Linked DNA regions of Homo sapiens. The protein of the gene in region 2 purifies or fractionates together with the protein of the main gene of each other region. This does not show direct contact. Each region holds a gene or a part of one and is shown on either strand. Other genes may lie near its edges. The genes, in order: FAHD2A, TST and LYPLAL1.

Evidence for each region.
Region 1: the proteins of TST (region 2) and FAHD2A fractionate together in Homo sapiens (co-fractionation; 2 studies listed by BioGRID). This does not show direct contact.
Region 3: the proteins of TST (region 2) and LYPLAL1 fractionate together in Homo sapiens (co-fractionation; 2 studies listed by BioGRID). This does not show direct contact.

What each region holds. Positions count from the first base shown.
Region 1 is NC_000002.12:95,412,708-95,418,579, forward strand, and holds the end of FAHD2A (oxaloacetate tautomerase FAHD2A, mitochondrial), read left to right. Parts: coding exon 1-57; intron 58-187; coding exon 188-250; 3' UTR 251-1,258; coding exon of another isoform or gene 1,259-1,338; 3' UTR 1,339-1,476; coding exon of another isoform or gene 1,477-1,525; 3' UTR 1,526-1,574; coding exon of another isoform or gene 1,575-1,632; 3' UTR 1,633-3,909; downstream 3,910-5,872. UniProt on the Homo sapiens protein: Tautomerase that converts enol-oxaloacetate, a strong inhibitor of succinate dehydrogenase, to the physiological keto form of oxaloacetate. It is thereby required to maximize aerobic respiration efficiency by preventing succinate dehydrogenase inhibition.
Region 2 is NC_000022.11:37,015,814-37,024,410, forward strand, and holds the start of TST (thiosulfate sulfurtransferase), read right to left. Parts: upstream 3,635-8,597; 5' UTR 3,587-3,634; intron 2,941-3,586; 5' UTR 2,920-2,940; coding exon 2,325-2,919; intron 1-2,324. Other genes in the region: MPST (3-mercaptopyruvate sulfurtransferase), read left to right, coding at 4,024-4,059, 8,379-8,597.
Region 3 is NC_000001.11:219,168,844-219,177,458, reverse strand, and holds the start of LYPLAL1 (lysophospholipase-like protein 1), read right to left. Parts: upstream 3,582-8,615; 5' UTR 3,569-3,581; coding exon 3,478-3,568; exon of another isoform or gene 3,155-3,477; intron 2,499-3,154; exon of another isoform or gene 2,439-2,498; intron 1-2,438.

The DNA.
Region 1 (5,872 bases), on a different chromosome or scaffold from region 2:
CTAACTGGGACCCCCCCAGGTGTCGGTGTATTCAGGAAACCTCCTGTCTTTCTCAAGGTAGGTTAGCGAAAAGCAAAGAGCAAGGGCCCCAAAGGCCTGGCAGGCTTGCCTCAGACTTGAGAAGTACAGGCTTGTGTATGTGTGTCTGACGGAAGGGCTGACACTGTCATGGCCTGCTCTGTTGCAGAAGGGGGATGAAGTCCAGTGTGAGATTGAAGAACTAGGTGTCATCATCAACAAGGTGGTGTGATGGCTCCTGCACAGGCCCTGCACATAGGATGAGGGCATCTGCTCCCACTCAGCCTAGCCCAGGGAAAGGCCCAGTGACAGGTGTGGACAGGTGCCAGCCCTGCAAGCCGCCTCTTCTCGGTAGAAGGGAGAAGGACAGAGCTCTCTTCAATAAATTCGTCAGGTCAAAGCAGCAGCTTTGCTTCTGCTGTTTGTCTTCTTTTGGGCTTTGTTTCATGGGACAAGTTGGGGCATTTTGTGGGACTGGGGAAGAAGAGAGCAAATACACACACATATGCCAAAAAGATGCTGCTGGGCTGGGGAAAAGACAATTCGTGTCGTCCCCTTGTTTATCACATCAAAGAAGGGAAAAAGCAAGAGATGGCAAGGGACAATCAAGCCTCAATGATTATATTTATAGCTAAGGGTTTGCAGCCTCCTCTCCATCTTCTGGCTCTAGGACACAGCTGTGTTCTGGGGCTCAGAAGTCTCAGCACAGGCTCCTTCTCACAGTTCTAGCTACAAGTGAACTGCCGGATGAACTGTTCTAGTTTTTCCTGATTGTCCAGGCTGGCAAAAGTAGGGGACAGGTGGAGCCTGGGGCCTGCAGGGCTCGGCGTCTGCTGCAGAACCTGGGCCATGGAAGATGGGCCGTGAGTGCACTCACCACAGGGACTGTGTCCACATGGCCCAGGGGCCAGGCCTGTCCCCCAGAAACCTGCCTTGAGACCTCTGACCCCTTAGGCCTCAGTGTTTGAGTGCAAATGCTGCCTCAAAGCAGCCCCAATACCCCACCTAGAAGGATGAGCCAGTGATTTGGGAGACCAAGAGGCAGGAAACCATCCCACCTTCTCCAACCCATCACCACGTCTATTGCTGGAAGACACCAAGTAAATCCCAGGGTCTTAATGAGGCACCATCAGGCCAGCCCTGTGGGGTGATGGGAACATAGCTGGGTTTCCCTGAGCCACTCTATTGGGGTGGGAGCAGGGGGACAGAAGATGGTGACACTGGCTCCTCTCACCCCTAGGTCTCTGAAGGTCCAGATAGCACTGATGGCAAGCTTTGGGTCTGCACACTCTGGAAAGAAGAGAGAAGTGAAGGCTCTAGGTAGGGAGGACAGGGAGACACTGGGCACAGGCTTCTCTCCTCTTGTTTAAAGAAGCCCAGGGAGGGATAGATCTCCGACTGGACAGAAGACTACTCTGCAGCCCGCCTTCCTAGAGTTGGGTTGTCACTGTCCGGCAGGGGGCAGCAGCCACCAGCAAACACCACTGCCTGCAGGAGCCTGGGCTGACTGGTTGGGACTCACCAAAGATCCCTTCTTCCTGGGCGGTGGCCTGCAGGAACTGGAACAGCTGTTGGAGAGGAGAAGAAAAAGAAGACATCAAAAAGAAAATCTAGTGCTGGGTGGATATAGAGTATGAAGATGTGGAGCTGGGAAAACAGAGGATGTGGTGGGATGGGGAAGGAAAGGTTGTGGAAGGCCTGCACCCCGTCTCAGTTCCTCCACTGCTTCGTCCCAGATTCTGTTTTTGTTTTCCTGAATCAGACTTAGTCTCCCTCCATTCTCCCGTCCCCTGTGTGCCCCCATCCTGGTCCTGCCTCACTGGACAGCCTCTCCGCGGCCTTCCTCCTCCCTGCTCCAGAATTCTACTTGGTGCCCCCCAACCCCACTCGACTCATTGTCCACCTGGCCTCTGAGGCCAGGCACCCTCATTCCCCTCTCCCACCCACCCCACCCAAGGAAGCCCAGCACAGACCATCTCATCTCACTCCACCATCACTTCTTTGCCAAATGCATTTCCAAACACCCTCATGAGCTTTGCTGATCTCTTTGCCATCTCTCCCTGCCCCACTCCGATGGCTCCTCCTGCCTGGTGAAGACTGCCCTGGGTATCCCAGAACTGAACCTGCAGCAGCCAGCACAGCTGACCTTGGGGCGATAAGCAGCCAGGGAAAGGCTTTCTTAAAAAAAAACAAAAAACAAAACCAATAACTCAGTAAGCAGATTAAACAAAGGTAGAGACGGAGCCCTCCACCCCTCTCACACACTCATCCTCACACCCAGCTATACCACACCCCACAAATGTTGCTTATGTTTCCTTGGTCATTCTGTCCATCCTCCTGTCTGTCCAAAGCCAAGGACACTGCTCTACTCTAAATTTTTTGTCCCGAAGCCCCCAAATACTGCAACCCTGACCCAATGCACGAAGCCACCCCAAAATACAGCAGAGGACACCAGGACTTTCATTTTCCCTCAGTATGGCCCATCCTTTGGGTATGCCAACTCCATGTCCACCAAGCACTGCATGTAGGACAGGGCACAGTTTGGAGGCCTTGGTCCAGCCACTGCCCCAGACCCACCTTGGCTCTCTCCTCACTAACACCCGAGAAGCCCAGACTTCCCAGTGTTTAGCAACAGATTAAACTCTAAGCCAACAACAACAGAACAGGGTGGAGTGAGTGGAAAGCAAATGAAATGTTAAAAAAAAAAAAAAAGCAATACTTGCATTCTCATTAGTAGGAACATGTGAGATGAAGCATGTTATGTTATTAGGCATTCTCTTGATTCGGTAAACACAAGCTGAATAAATTTATAAATATCAGCATTAAGCGAGATTTAACGGGGAGCTGTTTATCTTCTGCCTGTCAGGCAGGCGGCAACACTCTCCATGTATCACTCGCCAGCCGTGCAGTCCTCACTCTCTTGCCCAGGTAAGCTGGGGAAGAGCCTGCTGCCGCCCAGCTCTGGTTGTGGAAGGGCTGGCACCAAGGAGCTGCGAGCTTACCTCAACTCATCTCACCTCACCATGCCGGCTGCGAGGCGGCCCGTGCAGTCCGTGCGCAGGAGGTCACACTCCCATGCTGCATCCCAGCCCCTCCAGAAGCAGAGCATGACCTGGGTGACTTTGAGGATGCTATTTAACCTCTCTAAGCTAAAGCTCCTCGACTGCAGCATCAACAGATCAGTGCCGACCTGTTAAGGCCGTCGAGAGCATCAAATGCTACTGTTCAGCAGGTGCCTGACACATAGTAGGTCCACAAGCAAATGATTTTCCTGCTTGCATCATTTCTAGCACAGAGCTGGAGGAAATGGCGAGGTGCAGGTGGCCGCTGGGCCCTGCTGTTCTACATGGGAGCAAGACAGCTGCTAGGTGAAGGGGAATGACCAGGCAGCCACAGGGAGGACATGTGGCCTCAGGAAGCCTGGGTGTGTATCCTGGTTCTGCTAGGAACACGTGTGGGGCTTTGTGTGGGTGACTCTCTGGCTCCCCAAGCCTCCCTTTCCTACTGTTATATCCTTAAAGTGCCTCTGAGGCCAAAGCCTTTGTGGCAATTGTCAAATGAGTCCATATGCAGTGAGTACCGTGTTGAGGGAGGACAAGGTCACCAAGAGCTGAGAATGTTTCTCCGACTGATGAGACCTAGATATTGGGTACATGGAGGTCCCCGGTCCCTTTGTGATTCCTGCAGCCTGTTGCCTCCTTGCCTGGACCCCGCCTCAGCTCAGAAAGCCAATTCCCTAGATTCCAAAGGCCTTCCCAGACCAATTAGCATGTCCTGCAGCTGTCAGCTCCCTGTGCCTAGCCTGGACCTCAGCTCATGTCTAGCACCCAGTCTCCCAACCCCACACATATTCACAAATAAAAGAAAATAACAAATGACATGAATTCTTCACTCCTGGTCTGGCTTGCTGTGTGTAAACTGCTATGACAATACAAGACGCAGAGGCGGGTACCCAATAAAAGCTGTTGAAAATGTGACTGACACCGAGTTTCAGCTATCCAGGAAGGCACGGATCCTTACAAGGTCCAAGCAGAGTCCTCGAGAATAGTTGAGAATTCTTGGGTTCCATATGAACTAGGAGATACCCACACAAAGGCTTGGATTTCCCAATACATAACTACCCCTGAACACTCCTTCTTTCCCTCGTCTCTCTGCTGAGACCTCTAGACCCTAAGGATCCACCCAGGACAACCTCTCCAAAGGTACCCTGATATGCTTTTCTTCCAGGCAGCATTTCCACAGAGCTGTGGGTGAAAGTCACAGGATGAAAATGTGCCATGGGACTGTATCTCCCACCAACACACTGCAGGCAAGGGGCACACAGAGTGCCCCCTCTGCCCATCCCAGGAATGGCCATCTAAGAATGATGCAATCTTTTCTAAAAAGAAAGTAAATAAAGGCAGGTGCCATATAAGAAGACCTTGGGGGACTATAGGGATGTTCCTTAATGTCTCAGAACATCTGCCTCCATCAATGAAATGAAGGATTCAAAGCAGCTCATCCCTGAGTTGACCTTAATGCTGAATCCTAAACATCACCCTTAGGATGCTATCTGGCTAGGCAGGGAATGAAGGATCTGGGAGCTGAGTTGCAGGAAGCTGCAGCAGCTTCCCATTTACAGATCCTCTAGTGCCAGTTTTTCAGGCTTCCTGACTAAGAGAAGCAGCCAGGCAAATTCCACCATTCAGCTACATTTACAGGAAGCTGGCTATTTGGGAGGCTCTCTACCAGAGGCTTTGGGAAAAAAAATGCAGAATTAATGTAAAGATCACATATTTACCTATGAGAGAAAAGATATCCAAGGATGCCCTTCGGCCTCATTTGATCTAAAACTAGGCCTGGAGCTACCTAATTGTCAAGTCAGTTCAGGCTTCTATAACAAAAATACTATAGACTGGGTGGCTTAAACAACAAACGTCTATTTCACATGCTGCTGAAGGGAACAACCATGGTCAGGAGCATGATGAGGGCCCTCTTCCTGGCTTGGAGGTGGCCATCTTCTTGCTGTGTCATCACATGGCAGAGAGAGAGACAGAGAAAGAATGAGAATGAGAGGAAGCAAGCAGTTTCATATTTTATCTTATAAGGGCACTAATCCCATCATGAGGGCTCCATCCCCATGACCCAATAGCCTCCCAAAGGCCCCATCTCCAAATACCACCCCACTGGTAGTTAGGGTTTCAACATACATTTGGGAGTATACAAATATGCAGTCCACAAAACAAATACCCCTAAGTTGTCTGCATATGTATGCTTGTTCTGGTGCTGCTTTGAGTATCTCAGACGATAGAATCGAGTGTAGATCAAACTTCTCTAGGCCTCAATAGGGTGAATCTAAAGATTGGGTCACAATAATGGCAATAAGCCACAATTCACTGGATTAATCTCACCTACTCCTTCAGGGGCCTATCCACATTCAAAGTACCACAAGTACCTGTAGAAGTCTCTGAGCAGTATCACAAAGACTGACATAGATACAGGCAAAATAGAAAATGGATAGATGGTAGTATGGGGTTGGGGGTGGTTGTGTGTGTGTGTGTGTGTGTAAGGAAAGAGGATGTCTTGTACTTGGGATACATGGGGATATATTGTTTTTGAGGCTGTTTGGTGGCAATACTTGCCCTGAGCTCAGGAAACAGGCCAGAGAGATATATCTGTTCCCTACTTAGAAGAGAGCACTGATGCATGAAGGTTGGGAGGAGGCCAGAGAATAGTGTATTGAAAGAAGAGAATGTGACCAAGGCCCCAACATTAAAAATGAACCTTGAATTGGAGATGGGGAATGAAGAAAAAGTCAGAGAAGAGGGCATACGTGGAGTAATCTGAAAGACAGGAAGAGCCACAGGTGTGCACA
Region 2 (8,597 bases):
AATATCTTGTATGGGAGGCCAGCAAAGCCTCTTGGAGGAGGGGGTTGGGGGGGAAGTGCCACACCCTCCAGGATTTGTATCGTTCCTTACCCTTCTTGAAATCCCTTTCCAGCCACTGCTACTTTTTTTTTTTTTTTTTTTTTTTTTTGAGACAGAGTCTTGTTCTGTTGCCCAGGCTGGAGTGCAGTGGCGCGATCTTGGCTCACTGCAACCTCCACCTCCCGGGTTCAAGCGATTCTCCTGCCTCAGCCTCCCAAGTAGCTAGGATTACAGGCACGTACCACCAACGCCTGGCTAATTTTTTTTTCATTTTAGTAGCGACGGGGTTTCACCATGTTGGTCAGGCTGGTCTCGAACTCCCGAGCTCATGATCCGCCCACCTTGGTCTCCCAAGGTGCTGGGATTACAGGCGTGAGCCACCACGCCCGGCCGCCACTGCTACATTTAAACAAATGCATACTCATGTGGGTAGGGCTGGCGTGACTCTTCTCATTTTATGATAAGGAAACCCAGAGAGGCCAAGCAACTGGACTGAGGTCACTCCAAGGAGGAGTGGCTGAGCTGAAATGAGAATCCATGTTCCCTGATGCTCCTGAGGGAAACTGAAGGAGGTGTGAACACAATTACAGAGGAGGAACTTCAGCATCCCGGGCCTTCAGGAGGCATTACCCACTGCAGGCCATTCTCCTCCTCTGAGCCTCAGTTTCCTCATCTGTAAAATGGGTGAGGACATTGGGCCTGGCACCTCCAAGCTGTCCCTTCCACTTATTTCTTAGGTTGCTTCAGGGCAGGCTGGGAAGCAGCAAGAGAACCAATTCCACTGATCCTCCCCCATGACAGCTTAAATCCCAAGGAGAAGAGGCGTCTTGAACCAAGGCCAGGAGAGGGCTGCAGGCGTTCCCAGCCAGGATTCTCTGGGAGGTGCCAAATGAACTTGAATCTTCAACTCCAGACCTTCAGAGAGCAAGCAGGCAAGAAAAATATGGGGCCTGGAAAAAGCTGCGCTGGAAAGGGCAGAGACCCTGCTGTCCTGGCTCTGTCACTAACTAGCTATGCGGCCTTGGCCCCTGCCTCTGTGCACCTCAGTCTCCCCTCTGTCAGGTGAGGTCACCGTTCAGGCCCTCCAGCTCTAAGAGTGTGCAGAACAGTTTTCCCAGCATTCTCTCTGTAGGAGGTACAGACAGGAAGAGATGTTTTTCAACAAGTCAGGCAAAATGTTGCACACGAGTTAGATTCTGTAGAGAAGGAGCTCTGACTGAGGAAAGAGCCACCAAGGAGGTGCCCAGAGACAAGAGAGGGCCCTGCTCCTGGAAATGGCCAGGCAGGGACTGGAGGGCACTCAGCAGGAGTGATGGCAGCGAGACGGCAGTCCTGCCTCTAGAAAAGGGAAGACCTCCGAGGTTCTGTCTGGCTAGGAGGTTCTAGAACTCAGCATTTCCTCTCCTGAGGCTCTCCCCAACCCTCAAGCAGTATCCAATCCACCTGGCCTTCCCTTCCACAGGAGGGGAACTTCTGAGTCGCCTTCCTGGGGCAACTAGCAGAGGGGACTCCCTCCTGGCCCTGGGAAGTAGGGGTAGGGCAGCATTGGGTGCGTCCTGGTTTATAGCCCTGGTTTGAAACAAGGCAGCATTGGATTCGAATCCTGCCTTCCACCACTTTATGTCCTGGCATCTCAGTCCCCCCACCCCCCGCTGCCAAAACAGGGGCATTGAGCTTTGTTCGCTGAGATAATGCGGTGCCAAGTGTCTGGCATGAAATGGCAGCTGCTGTTACAACTCTGCCGACGGGCTGCAGCTGCCTGGAAAGGTTATGGAACCTTTGCAAACAGCAGGCAGGGGCCCCAGGAGAGCTAGATTTGGGGAGAGGGGGATCCTGCGGGGAGGGACACTGTTGATGTCTATAAGGGTTTCTGCGGGACGAGAGAGGCCTGGAGAAGCTGGATGTGTCCGTGGGAGGTTTCTGTACAGCAATGCAAACGCTGGCTCAGGGGCATGACACCCTTAGGTATATCCTAGTACATGTGGGGCAGCTGGTGCCTGGGAGTGGAGGTGGTGGACATGTCACCAGTGACTTCTGCTCACACAGATGCTAGGTGGCTTCTTAGCACATGGCTATGAGGACACATTCTTGGGTCCTTGTGCATCCAAGCTGAAAAAGCCTTTAGGTTTGTCTCCACTTTCTGGTTTTATCGATGGAAAGACTGAGGCCTACATGGGAGGATTGAAGGCATGGGACGGACCCTGGAGAGGGTCCCAGTCATCCTTACTCCCTATCCTTCCATGGGGCAATACTCCCCAGGGACCACCCAGCACTGGGACACCTACCTACTGCATCCGGCTCCGGCTCGGTGCCCAGGAACCGCCCTTGAGACCTTGAATCCACCAGCTGGAACCTCTTAGATTCAAGGTTCTCCAGCACCTGCTCGTAGGTCTTGAGCAGGGAGCGGTCCAGTGTGGCTTTGAAGACGGCCGGTTCTGGGCGTGAGGGCTCGGATGTCACCGGGTGGCCCTCCTTCAGCCAGTTCCGGAAGCCACCATTGAGCACTGATACGGTGCGGTGGCCAAACACACGGAACATCCACCAGACCCGGGGAGCATAGAAGCTGCCCAGGTGTTCACCATCATACACCACCACGTGCGTGTGGTTGCTGATGCCCAGGCGGCCCACATACTCGGCGAAGCCAGCCTCGCTGGGCAGCATCATCTCGTAGGGCGACGCCGTGTCCCGGCACTCTTCTATGTCAAAGAAAGAGGCGCCGGGTACGTGGCGCTCGAGGTACTCCTTGCGGGCCTCTCGGGTGCCTGGTGAGTACCAGGACGCGTCCAGCACCCGCAGGCCGGGCCCCAGCTTGCCAGTCCTGATGGACTCCGCCAGCCACTTGGTGGAGACCAGCGCCCGGTAGAGCACCTGATGAACCATGGCTTCAGCTCTGCGTGTCACCTGGCACGGGTGGGAACCAGGAAAGAGAGACAGGCGTGAGGAAGGAAGTCGGTGTGTGCAGTAGGGTGAGGCCTGGGAGAAGCTCTTTCTCCCTCCGCACTCCCCCGGGTTCCTTGTTTACAGCAAGCCAGCGAGGCTGGGGCGTGCAGCGGGATAAGTTTGCAGATTCCCTCTGGAAAGCCGGCCCCGCCCCTCCCAGCCGGCCCGGGGGCCCAGCGCAGAAGCGGGTGGGGCAAGAGTTTCCGAGGACTCCAAGTAGGGGCGCTTCCTGGGGCGGGGATCTGGCTCCTAGAAGTTACAGTACTCGATCCCGCCAGGAAAGAGCAATGAAAGCATGCCCGGGATGGGGGGCGATGGCATCTTGGGCTTAGAATCCCCTTTCCTTCCAAGGCAGAGGGGGTGGGCGCACGGCTAGGAAGCTCCGCGAGCCGCGCACACGCCATCGCCTGCGGCCTCCCCAGGCAGCCCGAGCTCGCCCGCCTCCAGAGTGCCCGAGTCCGGCCCGTAGCTCGCTGCCCTCTGCCCTAGGTGGATCAGGGGTTCCCGGGGCACCCCGTCCCACTCTCGCAACGCTATCCTTCCCCGGGCAGCAGGTGGCCCGACCGGCGGCCCAGGCGCCCGGCCGCTGCCCCCGCCCCGCACTCACTCGCCCCGGACGCCGCGCTGGCGCTCGCCCCGGCCGGCTGGAGAAGTTGGCCGGTTCAAACCCCCGGCCGCAGCTCCCCAGGCGGCGCGCACCATCGCGCCACCGCCAGAGGGGGACCCTGCGCCGCCCGCCGCCATCCCGCGCCTCCCCCGCGCGGCCGCTTCGCGCCCGGCACCTGCCAACCTCGCGCGCGGGGCCTCCGGGACCCGCGGGGGTCTGAGGGGGACGCCGGGTGGCGCGGGGGCCGCGCGGGCCTGGGCTGGGCGGAGCGGGCGTACCCCCACGGCCCGGCCAGTGGAAGGCGCGGGCAGCAGCGGCTCCGAGTGGCCGCGGCGGTGGGCTGTGCCGGAGTCTCCTCCCTTTGGTCCGCTGCAGGTTGGTGGCGGGAGGAGGGGACAGCTGCGGGCGCGGGGAGGGGGCGCCGCGCCGCGGGGGCCATGGCGGAGCCAGGAAGCCGGGAGTCCGAGACCCGGGTAACTGCCGCGGCGTGGCGGCTTGCCTTTCTGGAGGGGGAGGGAGTGGCTCTTTGGGGGTGCTCGGCGCGGGGCTCCCGCGCGGGACCTGGGCGGAAGAGGGGGCTTAGTCTAGGAGAGAAGGCGCGCCGCTACGTTGGCACTAAGGGTGACTGTCCGCTTGGGGCGGCCTGCCGGGTGGGGTCGTGGCGAGTGGCGGGTGGGGAGCCTTGGGTGGAAGTGGGTGACCTGGTGGCACCAGAGAGGGCGGGGGAGAGAGAGGAGGACAGGGAGACGAGACCCCGCTGACCCAGAGGCCCCAGGAAGAGACACTAGCCAATAACTTGTTAGTGAGTGAAAGGAACTAACATTGTCCAGCCCTGCTTGGTGTGGCACTTTGCTGGGTACTCCCGTGGTGTGACTTAATTCCCACAATAACCCTGAGGAGTAGGCCAGAAACTTACTAAGACAGGAGAGAGCGGCAGAGCGAGTTGCTGGAGGACACACCCAGAGTTGAGGCCGGGCCTGATCCCTGGTCTGAAGCCCACGTGGTACCAGCTGCCTTTGTTTACCTGGCTCTTCCCTGAAGGTTCATGCTTTTTAAAAAATTGCCTGTTTTGAACTTAGCCCGTTTAATCATAAGTTGATGTAATTCAATTTTTAATAATAGCTGTATTTAACAACCAGTTGGCAAAATTCCTGAAAAGCTCGCCATGGGCTCTTGCAAACTGGGGGACACCATTGCCCCTCCCTAGCTTTTGCAGAGGCCAGCCTGGAAGCTTTCCCTGTTTCCCAACCCTGACCTTTTGTTTTGTTTTGTTTTTTGAGACAGGCTGTGGTTCTGTGGCCCAGACTGGAGTGCAGTGGCGCCATCTCAGCTCACTGCAACCTCCGCCTCCCAGGCTCAAGCGATCCTCCCACCTTAGCCTCCCAAGTAGGTGGGACCACAGGCATGTGCCACCATTCCCGGCTAATTTTTAAATTTTTGGTAGAGATGGGGTTTCACCATGTTGTCCAGGCTGGTCTTGAACTCCTGGGCTCAAGTGATCTGCCCATCTCAGCCTCCCAAAGTGCTGAGATTACAGGCATGAGCCACCATCCCTGGCCTCATCCCTCTTTTTAAAAAAAGGTTTTGTTCTAAAATGCTCACAGCAATCCTCAAAGCCTAGTGTCTGGTGGTTGGGGGAGGGGGTGGGCAGGAGGGACCAGGCTGGGGAGGTCCAAGAGGAGCTCCCAAGCTCTGCTCCTCAAGGGGTACCCTGGATCCAGCCTGCGGCTCACGCTTGCTTCAGTGCAGCTGTGTATCCTTCTGACATGAGCCTGGGGCGGTTACGTCCTGGGGTCCTCCACTCCCAGGGCACCCTCACCTACAGTGATCCCGGCTTCTGAATCACACAGGCACCTGGTTTCTACCCCTCCCTGACACCCACAGCCTGCCTTCACACCCTCCTTTATGGCCCACAGACCTTTGTGAGAAGTGCCAATCAAGCAGGGAGACTGGGGCAGGGTGACCTCAGATCTCTGAAGTCCCACCAAGCCCTGAAATTCTAAGATTTTAGATTTGCTGCTGGCAGTTCCAGGGCCACCAATGAGAGTAATGGAAGAAATAATGCAATATTATTATTATTATTATTATTTTGAGATGGAGTCTCACTCTGTTGCCCAGGCTGGAGTGCAGTGGCGCGATCTCGGCTCACTGTAACCTCTGCCTCCCAGGTTCAAGCGATTCTCCTGCCTCAGCCTCCCGGGTAGCTGGGACTACAGGCTCATGCCACCATGCCCAGCTAATTTTTGTATTTTTAGTAGAGATGAGGTTTCACCATGTTAGTCAGGCTGGTCTTGAACTCTTGACCTCGTTATCCGCCCGCCTTGGCCTCCCGAAGTGCTGGGATTGCAGGTGTGAGCCACCACGCCCGACCTAAACCGTTTTTAATGATTATTAAAACCAGCCAGATGTAATGCATGGTGGTTGCCCCTCTACATTTATTGTTTAATCTTGGCTCTAAGAGGTGGAGGTGAGAAGCTCCATTATAAGGAACAGAAACCACCCAGAGACCCTACACACCCACATCACACAACCAGTTAAGCAGTGGAGTGGGGTTTACATTGATTTGGGGGGCTCTCTGGCTCCTAAACCAGGGCTCTTTCTACTGTAAATGGATGATTGGGTGAGGGAAACAAGGATCCTCAAGAATAGGGGACAGTGTTTGGGGGTGCACAGGGGCTGCTGTGGTTCCCACAATAGGGTTCCTCAGGAAGGAACCTGCAGCATCTGCCAGCACAGCGCCCCCTAGCTGTGCTGTAACGCAGATAATGGGGATCACCCCTTAGCCAAACACCCCTTGGCAGCCTCCCTACCCTAAAGACCGTGCTGAGGCTTCCTGGGCCCCTGGAAAAGTCAGATTAGTCTGGACTTCCTCCTACTCCAGGAAGCCTTCCCACCTCTTCTGCTGCCACCCCAGGCAAACATAGGGGCCCTCTGTGCTCAACACTGAATTCTAAACTATCCTCAATTTCACTCTCTCTTGCCTGCAGCCTGACGTTTCCCCCCAGGGCTTGGCAAAGGCAAGAGTGCCTCGGTGTCCGGCACAAGGCCTGACCGCATGGGTGAAGTAGGTTCCTAAAAGCCAGCTGCGGCCAGACTGTGGGGGTGGGCACAGGGTGTCACCCTAGAACTCATTAGGCCCTGGTCATCATGGCACCTGGGGCAGGGGAAGTCCAGCCTGAGGGGTCAAATTCTGGCTGCAAATCCTGAGGCTGCCTCCTGTGACCACGGGCAAGGCACTTATTCTTCTAATTGCCAGTGGCCTCATTCATAAAGCAGGCGTCCTAATACCCGCCCAAGGCTGCGGTGCCTAGCATGTGACCTGGCCCACAGAGGCACTCGGTCCACAGATGTTGTTCTCTACCTGCCCCCTTCATTTCGCTGGCAGGACTGCATGCAGTGGGTGTCAAGGTTGGGCCTCACACAGGGGATAAGTGAGGGCTGATCTGCAGCCCATACTCCACACACCCAGCCATGTGCCCTGGTGGGGGCTCAGCCTCTGCCTGGCAGAAGGGGCCCTTTCCTCTCACCTGCACAACGGTGGCTTCCCAGCACAAAGGGCTTAAAGTGTTTGGGAAGTTTACACCCAGGAAGGCTGTGGGCTGGCCTGGCATAGTGGGCTGGCGAGCTGGTGCACTGTCTCTGGTATGCAGGAAAGATAGAGAGGAGAGGGAGGGAGGTGCGAAGTCACTGTTGCTGCTGCTAGAAGGGCCAGAGAGAGCCCAGGCTGGACAGGCAAAACCTGGCCTCGCCAGACTCCTGGAGCCTGCACAGAGTGTGTGTCTGAGAAGTCCGGATTCTGGTGCCAGACTGACTGCCTAGTGAGAAGCCTGGCACCGCCGGGTCAGGCTAGTGCACTTTTTCTTGTTTGTTTTTTGTTTTTGAGACAGAGTTTTGCTCTTGTTCCCCAGGCTGGATTGCAATGGCACGATCTCGGCTCACTGCAACCTCCGCCTCCTGGGTTCAAGCAGTTCTCCTGCCTCAGCCTCCCGAGTAGCTGGGATTACAGGTGCCCTCCACTAAGCCCGGCTAATTTTTTGTATTTTTGGTAGAGACGGGGTTTCACCATGTTGGCCAGACTGGTTTCAAACTTCTGACCTCAGGTGATCCACCTGCCTGGGCCTCCCAAAGTGCTGGGATTACAAGCGTGAGCCACCGCACCAGGCCAGGTTAGTGCACTTCTGTGAGCCTGAGTGTCCTCCTTGAAACGGTGACAATAATATACCAGGCCTCTTAAGATCACTCATTCAACACATACTGGAGAGTCTACTGTGTCAGGCATTGTTCTAGGATATTGTTAGGATTCAGTGGTACCCAGCAAGGACTCAGTAAATTCCAGCTACTGTTCCTATTAGGTCGCCAATATAAATGCTTGATGAGTGAATGAATGACTTCCGTCTGGGACTTGGTTGCAAATAAAGCCGAGCTGCATCTTAGGGAGGGGTGGAGACTTTGCCCCTGTTTGTGCCTTGAAGCCAGCAGGGCCTTGCCCTAGGATACCTCCACCCACCCTCCTGCCCAGCAAGTGGAGGTGAGGGGCGTGGCCTGGGGCTCTCCGGGAGGTCATGGTCATTGGGTCACTCGGAGCTTGTGTTTATATGAGGCCTGGCAGAGGGAGGCCCCTGGCTACCCACCTTTGTGCCCGGGTTCACCACCACTGGTTTCTGCGTTCCCTGGACTCTGCCCTGCACGGGCCGCACCTCCCCCGCCGGCCCTCGCCCATGCTCCAGCCCCAGCCCTAGCCCCAACAGCGGCCTCTCCCTGCTTCCCTTCTGACATCCTCCCTGTCGCCCAGGCCCGCAGCCCGAGTGTCGCCGCCATGGCTTCGCCGCAGCTCTGCCGCGCGCTGGTGTCGGCGCAATGGGTGGCGGAGGCGCTGCGGGCCCCGCGCGCTGGGCAGCCTCTGCAGCTGCTGGACGCCTCCTGGTACCTGCCGAAGCTGGGGCGCGACGCGCGACGCGAGTTCGAGGAGCGCCACATCCCGGGCGCCGCTTTCTTCGACATCGACCAGTGC
Region 3 (8,615 bases), on a different chromosome or scaffold from region 2:
TATGGACAGCTAGAGGGGAGGACAAAATCCAGCCTAGGGTCCTTAAGGAGGATAAGCTAAGAATGAGTTTTACATTATTAAAGACTCCTTTCTCAAAAAGAGAGAGAAGGGAAAACTATGGGGAAGAGACCTTACATGGCCCACAAAAGCTAAAATGCTTACCTGACTTTTTGCAGAAAGTTTGCCAACCCCTGCCCTACACTACCTGGATGCCAGTACCCTCTTGGATATCCCTTCCTATTCTTCTCACTCCAGACACACTAGCCTTACTGCTGTTCCTTGAACATGTCAAGGACCCTACCCTGGAGCCTCCGACTTGGCTTTAAAGCCAAGTCTAAGTCTAGCTGTGAAGTTTCATCTTCTGTCATCTTTGCAGTGAGGCATAACCTGACTACTTTATTTAAAATTGTAACACTGTTCCAACTTCTCATCCATGGAAGAATCCCCTTATCCTGCTTTCCTTGTTTCCATAAAACTTACTACCTTCTACTATAGTATTTATTTACTTCATTAGAACATAAGCTCCATGAGAGCAGTGATTTGTTTTTTTCATTGCTGTATGATCAGAGCACAGAACAGTGCCTTACACATGGAGGCTGTGATATATTTCTTGAATGAATGGATTCATGAATGAATGTCTATCAGGCAGTTAGATGAACTTGTCTAGAGCTCAAAAATAGAATCTATGAATCTCCACAGAAATTCAAAGGTTCTATTTTTACCTATACACCAGTGACACAAATGGGTATCTCTAGGAGACTTCTGTGATTAGCCTAGGGAGAAAAATGTAGAGTGAAAAGACCTTGGACCAAATTTAGAGAAACCCCATCATTAATGGCCAGGTAGAGGAGGATGAGTCTGCAAAAGAAACCAGAAGGAGCAAATCAAGACAGAAAAAGAACCAGGAGAGTTTTTTGAGAAGAAAGCTGAATGCAGATGACAGTTCACGTAAGAGGACGACTGAAAATGTCCATTACATTGAGCGACATAGAGCCTGAGCTTACTGGTGACTTTACCAAGAAGCTACTCAGTCAACTTGCTGAGCCTTACCACACAAGAAGAAAGCCATAAACAAGACACATGGTTTGGGCTTTGTGGACCTACTAGCTTAGTGTGGAATACAGACATTACATTACATAATTACAAGTATGATGACTACCACTGAAAGAAGAACCAGTGTCCTATGGGAGCAAATAAGAGTGAATTAATCTGATCTGAGAGACTGAACAAAACTCATTAACCTATCATTTATTTTTATCATCTTAAAAGAAGGTCCGTCTTTAGTACTTTATTAATAGAAAAGGCTCAAATTAAGTTGGCTACATATAATTTACACTCCCATATGTTCTTCTATGGCTGCTATCTCCTAGAAGAAAATCTCAAGCTTTTAAGGTTTTTTATTTGAAAACACAAAATCTGTCTTTAACAACATTTTTTCAGCCTCGAAGAGTAAGAATGCAGCTGCAAAACAACATCTATCCATTCCCAATGTCCACTTTTTAAAAAGCTAGTACTTTATTCCATAGTAAAAGTGTTAAAACTGGTTAACAGTATGGCAAAACTGAGTGTGATAAAACAGAATTGGTTTGCCCATATTCTAGTTAAGCAGAAACCAAACATCTCCTATAACATAACCACATACATTAAAGTTGAATGTAAAATCACTAGCTGCTAAAGACCTACTGGATGATAAAGACCTACTCCCAACGATAAAGATGATAAAGACCTACTCCCAATAAGGTTTTATTTACTTCAGTGGAGATTTAAATATATAGGAATCACATTATACTCGCATACTTGGCAGAATTCTTTGAATAAATTCTTGGTTCAAAGTACAAAGGAAAAAATACATACATACATGACTCTGAATTTTAGAGACATACCCTTACAGGTTATAAAAATGTAATCTGAAATTCAAAAAAAGGATAATTATTTTAAGCAAAGAGGTCCAGGGGAAAAAAGAACATAGTCTAGGAGTTCTTCCTAAAGATAATGAGAATTGATTATGAGAAAGGGTACAGTGTTGGGGAATTTCTGGGTACTTATAAATGAACACTCTTGGAGCCCTAAATAGTACTACCAGTCTCCTAGTTATTAAGTACCGCTGTCATCTTACACACGTCACCTTCTAAATATATGCCGTCTTTCCCTTTAAACACTATTGGACCTCTTCTTCCCTATCTCCAAAACAATATATCCTAGTTCAAACTTTTTCACCTTACCCCACCAAAGCCCTGAGTTTGAGGTCGGAGAGCTTTGGGTTCTAATCCCAAATCCGCCACTACTCACAGTAACAGCTAAGAGACCTTGGCCAAGCTGCTGAACCTGTCTGGCCTCATTTTCAAAATAAAGAGAATACCTCCCACAATTGCCCTTTTCCAGGTCTCTGCCCAGTACCTTTCCAATTCCCTTCCAATCACCGTCCCATTTAAGCCTACCCGTCTCGGCTCAAAGACCACTTTCTTCGAAAAGTCTGACAAGCTTTTCATCTTCCAAATGCCTTAATAATGCCTAACCACATTTTTTTCTCTTACAATTCACTTGGCAGGAAACCATGCACCGTCTTGTGATCTTCCATGCACTGCTGACTCAAACTAATTGGATTGTTTTTGTTTTTAACTTTAGGTAGGCCCCCTGAGGACACCGGCTGCATCTCATTTCTTTAAAAAACATTTCCTGAGAGCTTACCCTGGGCCAAGCACTGGGGGTGCAAAGGTTGACACAAGGGCCCTTACTCTCATAATCCAGTGGGAAGTTCACAATCCAGTGGGGAAGACAGACAAAAGTGATTACAGATGAGTGTTAAGTAACGATACAGCATTAAGCACACGTTACTAAGGGCAGGTAGTGGAAGATGCCTGTCCCTGGGGGTCCTGCCCCTGTAGTCTATCTTGGAAGTTTAATGACACAGGCGGGAAAGGGAAAGGAAGGAAAGAGAAGCAGCAAAAAGGAAAGTGAGAGAAAGCACTCCAGCCATGGCACAGTGGCTTACAGAAAAGAGATAATCTGTAAACAGTATCTAAGTTAACTGTGAATCTCAATTGTCTACATTAGTATGGGAGCCTGGAAAAAGCAATGGGCAATTACGACTGAAAAATCACTAGTAGCTGATAATGAAAAACACTAAATAATTTCCCTCTAGCAGAAGACTTACCTTACTAACTTGCTCTGTTTAAACTTGGGGCGAGGAATGGGGAGGTGTGTTGTGGGGATGGAGGGCTGGCTGAGCGGCGGGACACAAGGCCCCAAAGCGAGGGTGGTGGACCAGTGACCGCCCGATAGAAAGAGGAAGACTAACGGGGGAGGCTGGGGGCAGGTGGCGCTGCCCGTGCATCTACAGCCGGGGCTGGCGACGGGGGAGCCACCCACTGGGCCCTATTTGGGCCCGGCGACACCTCCACTTGGGCAATACTGGGGTAACCGAGGGGAGGATGTTTCCCGAGCTGTAGAAAACCAGGACGTAAAATTGAAATCCACCTGAGCCATGCAGGAAGATCAGAGAGGCGCTATGCCTCCCTGCCGGCGACACGATACAGCGCTGCAGAACCGACCCCGACGCAGCCGCCATCGCTGATGCCACTGCCAGTCATGCGGTTCCGCCCCTGCGTTGCCGCGCGGGGCCGCGCACGCAAATACGCAGGCACGCGCGGGAGCACGCCCGGGAGCGCGCATGCGCAGCGCTGCTGGCCCGCTCTCTGAGGAGCTTTCAATACTTTGGGGTCAAGTTTGAGGCAGTTGTAACTGTACTGAGTTTAGTTTTGCTAATAATGGTATTCTACGTGTGTCAGCCTCGTGTGGACTTCTGTAATGACTAATGGATATGTTTATATCCTGAGCATTTGCTGTAGGAATTTTAAATGCAATCCCAAAACTCAAGATTACCTTATTTGGAGAAATATTCGTGTTACTATGTTTAAAATTTAATAGAACCATATTTTACCTTTCACTTTGGGACTCGCACAGGATGTTTGCAGCTCTTGATATACAGGGTAAGCGAAGCATATAATAATAAGTTCTCTTCGTGTCTCTTATTTTTAATAAATAGTTTACAAAGCAAATCTAATTTAATGAGATTCTGCTTTATATACCCATTAGAATGGCTCTTATCAAAAAAACAGAAAATAAGTATTAGTAAAGATGTGTAGAAATTAGAAACCTTGTGCATAGCTGATCAGAATGTAAAATGATGTTGCGGCAATAGAAATAATTTGGTGGCTCCTCAACAAGTTAAACATTGACTTAGCATAGGTACTAGCAGTTCCACTTCTAGGTATATACCCAAAAGAGATGAAAGCAGGGACTCAAACAAATACTTGTACTTCAGTGTTCTGTAGCAGCATTATTCACAAGTACCAAAAAGTGGAAACAACTCAAATGTTCATCTACAGATGGAGAGATAAACCAAATGTGCTATGTACATATTGGAATGGAATATTATTCAGCCTGTAAAAAGAATGTGATTCGGATACATGCTACAACATGGATGAACCTTGAAAACATTATGCCGAGTGAAGCCAGACACAAAAGGACAAATAATTGTATGATTCCACTTACATGAGATATCTAGAATTGGCAAATGCATAGGGACAGAAAGTGAAATTAGAGGTTACCAGGGACTAAGGGAAGAGGGAGTTGGGAGGTTGTTGTTTAATGAGTACAAGAGTTTCTGCTTAGATAGTGAAACATTTTTAAAAATGGACAGTGATGATGGTTGTACAACAGTGTTAATAACTGCCAGTGAACTATACACCTAGTAAATTTTATGTGTATTTTACCATAATTTTAAAAATACTAAGAAATGGAATTATTTCCTGTATAAAGTCCAAAACATAGGTATCTTTTAATACTGAAGGCAGTGGCCCCAGCAGGTTGCTCTTGCCTCATGTAAAATTCAACAAAATAACCCAGTAAAAGCTTAAGTACCATTAAACACTGGCCTTCCATTCATTGTAGTCTGCATTACATTTTAGCAATTACAACTTACCTTTTATTTGTTCCAGGTAATCACCCTACTTACAGGTAAGTAAACTGTTTACTATCAACATTAGTTGCCAAAATCAGCTCTAAGCTATCATGGTGTTATATTAATAACAATACCATCAACAAGAATGGTCCTACATGCCATTAGTTAACCAAATCAAAAAGAAATTCTGAGTCATTTCTCCAAAGCCCATAGATCTGCAGCAGAGAGTTGTATAAGTGAAGTCCCTGAGGAGGACAAACTAGGGTAGGCTGAGCTCTGATAGCCAATTCTTAAAAGAAAAACCTCTGTCTTTTGACCTGCCTTCCCCGTATGAGTTCTAGATAACCTTCCCTAGCCAGGTGAGAAGAGGGCAGTGCTACTAGGAAAGACCACTTGGAGATATACAGGGAAGGCTTTAAGTTCTACTCTTAGAACTCCATTTACTACCTGAAAATCTTACTGTACACCACCCCACGCTTTTGAGACAGCAAAAAATCAGAATATAATTATTTAAGAGTAATGATTATTAATAATAATAAGCAACTAATATTCATGGGATTCAGTAGGTGCCAAAAACTGTCATAAATTAATTCCAATAAAACTCAGTACTATTACTATCTGCTTTTGTCAATGAGGCTCAAAGAGGTAAGGAACCTGGCTCAAAGTCATAGTGCCAGTCAATTGTAGAACCTGGATTCACATGCTGGGCTTGACTCCAGAGCATAGGTTCTTAACTATTACCCACATTTACACATGAGTGCACAGAAATGAAGCAAGGGCATGTCGCAACTCTTATTTCAAAAACAAAAGTCTGGAATTTGTATTGTGGCCCTTTAGAGTCTCTATTTATTAGGTGTTCCTGTGCTTCTTTAGTTTTTCCCAAGTCTACTGCTATTAGTTCCTGATTTGTTCTTCCAACTATTCTACCAGTTTAAACAGGTAGATAAGCAGGTGGTAAATACCAGAAGCAACCTTCTGTATTCTGAATTTCACTGAGAACTCCAGCCTTCCCAGATTCATTATTAGAATGAGCCAGATTCTTCCACACTTAACCAAAGTGCTATTTTATTTCCAGTGATTTAAATGCTTAGCTATTGTTGCTATTCCTTTCATCTGTATTTGTTTATAGGACAAGCAAAGGTTTTAGATTACCTATATTTAGAGATCCCATCTGGTAGGCAAACTGTTGAACAAAAATGTTTTGTTCCTTTCATGTTACTGTACTACTTTGAAATGTAATTAAGTTTCAAGATGACTATTTGCTTTTGTGGTGGATCTTTTGCCCTATTGAAGGTGGGGGAATATTATCACTGGAAGATTCCTATTCATACATTCTTTTACTCTTTATATAGCTCCTAATTATTTTTTGTTGCTACTCATTTGCTTTCTGCCAATCTATATGCACCTCCTTTTGGTAACTTCAGTTCTAAACTTAAAAAAGCAAGTAAACAAAATAAAAGAAAAAGAAAAAGTTCTCCTGTTTTGCAGGGTTTCAATATCAATTAGGATCTAACGATATAAATGGCAAAGTCGGAGTTTAGTTTACTGTTCTTCAGTGTGTTGAGAAATGCTTTAGGCCACACTTAGTTTTCAAAACAGAAAAGCAATTGAAAGTTCAGCCATTAAGATTAGTATATTTTGCCTGGGTGCAGTGGCTTACTGTAATCCCAGCACTTTGGGAGGCCAAGGCAGGCGGTTCACTTCAGGCCAGGAGTTTAAGACCAGCCTGGCCAACATGGCGAAACCCCATCTGTACTAAAAATACAAAAAAACTTAGCCGAGCATCATGGCGCATGCCTGTAATCCCAGCTACTCCGGTGGCTGAGACACAATAATTGATTGAACCCCGAGGCAGAGGTTGCAGTGAGCCAAGATCTCACCACTGAACTCCAGCCTGGGTGACAGAGCAAGACTCTGTCTCAAAAAAGAAACAAAAACAATGAACAAGATTAGTATACTTGGTATTTTCAAATGATAACAGTTAAATGAAGTTGCATTTGTCACGCAGACAGTACACAGTTTCCCGTTTGTTGTTTGGCTCATTCTTAAGCATCAAACCATATCCTCTCTATTGGTTAGTTTTCATCTGTTGCATCATTCAGAGAGAGAGAAACACACACACACACACACACACACACACACACACACATATATATATAAACAATATATACACATTGCACAAAATGCTTCAGCTTCAGCTTTAGGTAATTTAACATTTTGTCATAGATAAATAAAATGATTTCTTTTATGCATTCCCCCTGTCCATTCATGAAAGAAAAACTAGAAACAAACTTAAAGGTCCTGAATTCTTACAAAACAGCAAAACTATACTTTTTATAAATGAGATTATAAACTTTAACATAATCATTGCCTCAGTTCTGGGGACCTTAATCTTTTTCAGTCCAGTCTTTCCAGATACAGATATGGGTCATTCCTCTACTTTACCTTACTACTAGATGTGCATGGTCTCATTCTCTTTTTAGAGCAGATGGGTCACGTGGGGCATTGTGAGATGGACTGAGATGGCATTGGCAGTAGGGGTAGGGGAATACATGAGCTCCTCAAACACAGACCAAACGCAGCCTTGGAGAATGGATAGTGATTACTCTGCTGGATTATTAACAGTCAACATGATACACACCAAAGCAGTATGTAGGCCCTAGAGGAGGACAGTGAACTTTCCTCCCTTGGGTGCAGGCTACAGGGTCAGTGTTTATGCTTGGACACCAGAACAATGTTCTTTGCATTGCCATTTGTCTCCTCTTTTCTGGGAAATGGGTCTTCTTCCATTTGGACACCTCTTATGGCCAGTTCTCAAATTCCTAAGTTACCCTCTGGAAACACTTCTTATTCAACTTCCACTCAGTGCTTATATGAGTCTGAGGAATCCCTCCTGCAATCTTCATATTTGTCTCTGTACTCTAGAACCTATTACTTTTTTCTTCTATAACAAATTTTCAGGCTTTTGAAATCCAGGGCAAGAATCAACAGCAACCCCTAATCAGGTTTTGGGCCCTTGAGGGCAGGGAAGTTCAAATCCTACCATGAGATGAGGGGAAGTCATTGCATTGCATACGTCTATTACAAAGAAAAGAAATAAAAGCCAAAAGAGTAATTTCCTTATGAATGCAGTCAGAATATCTACTGTATTTTGCTACATTCATTTAAGAGAAGATTAGATAGGTAGATATAAAAAATGTTGAAGTAATGAAATGATAGGAGTTCCTGTTCCAGCCTCGGGGATGACAAGCTATGTAAATTAGACAGGCCATTTAGTCTCATTGGACACGTTTCTCCAATTGTGAAATAAGGGAGCAGGACTTGATGGAGAAGCCCCAGGTTCTGTCATTCTGAGATCCTGAAAGAATTTAAATATGTGACATGTGCCACTCATTTATGAATATACCTCTGATGTTTAACTCTACTTATAAAATAATGGTTCAAAACTCTTAATTGCACTACATAAACTTTTAGTTAGTAGTATGAGAAAGATCAGCACATGTGATTCTCCTTCCTCCTTGTATGGCTGAGTTTAGCAGCCTTAATCTCTTCCTACTCTTTCTGTGATTACTTTTAAAAGCCAGGAAAAAAAATTTAAAAAGACCTTTAAAAAAAGATAATTAGAAAATATAAAGTCAATTTTTGCAATTTG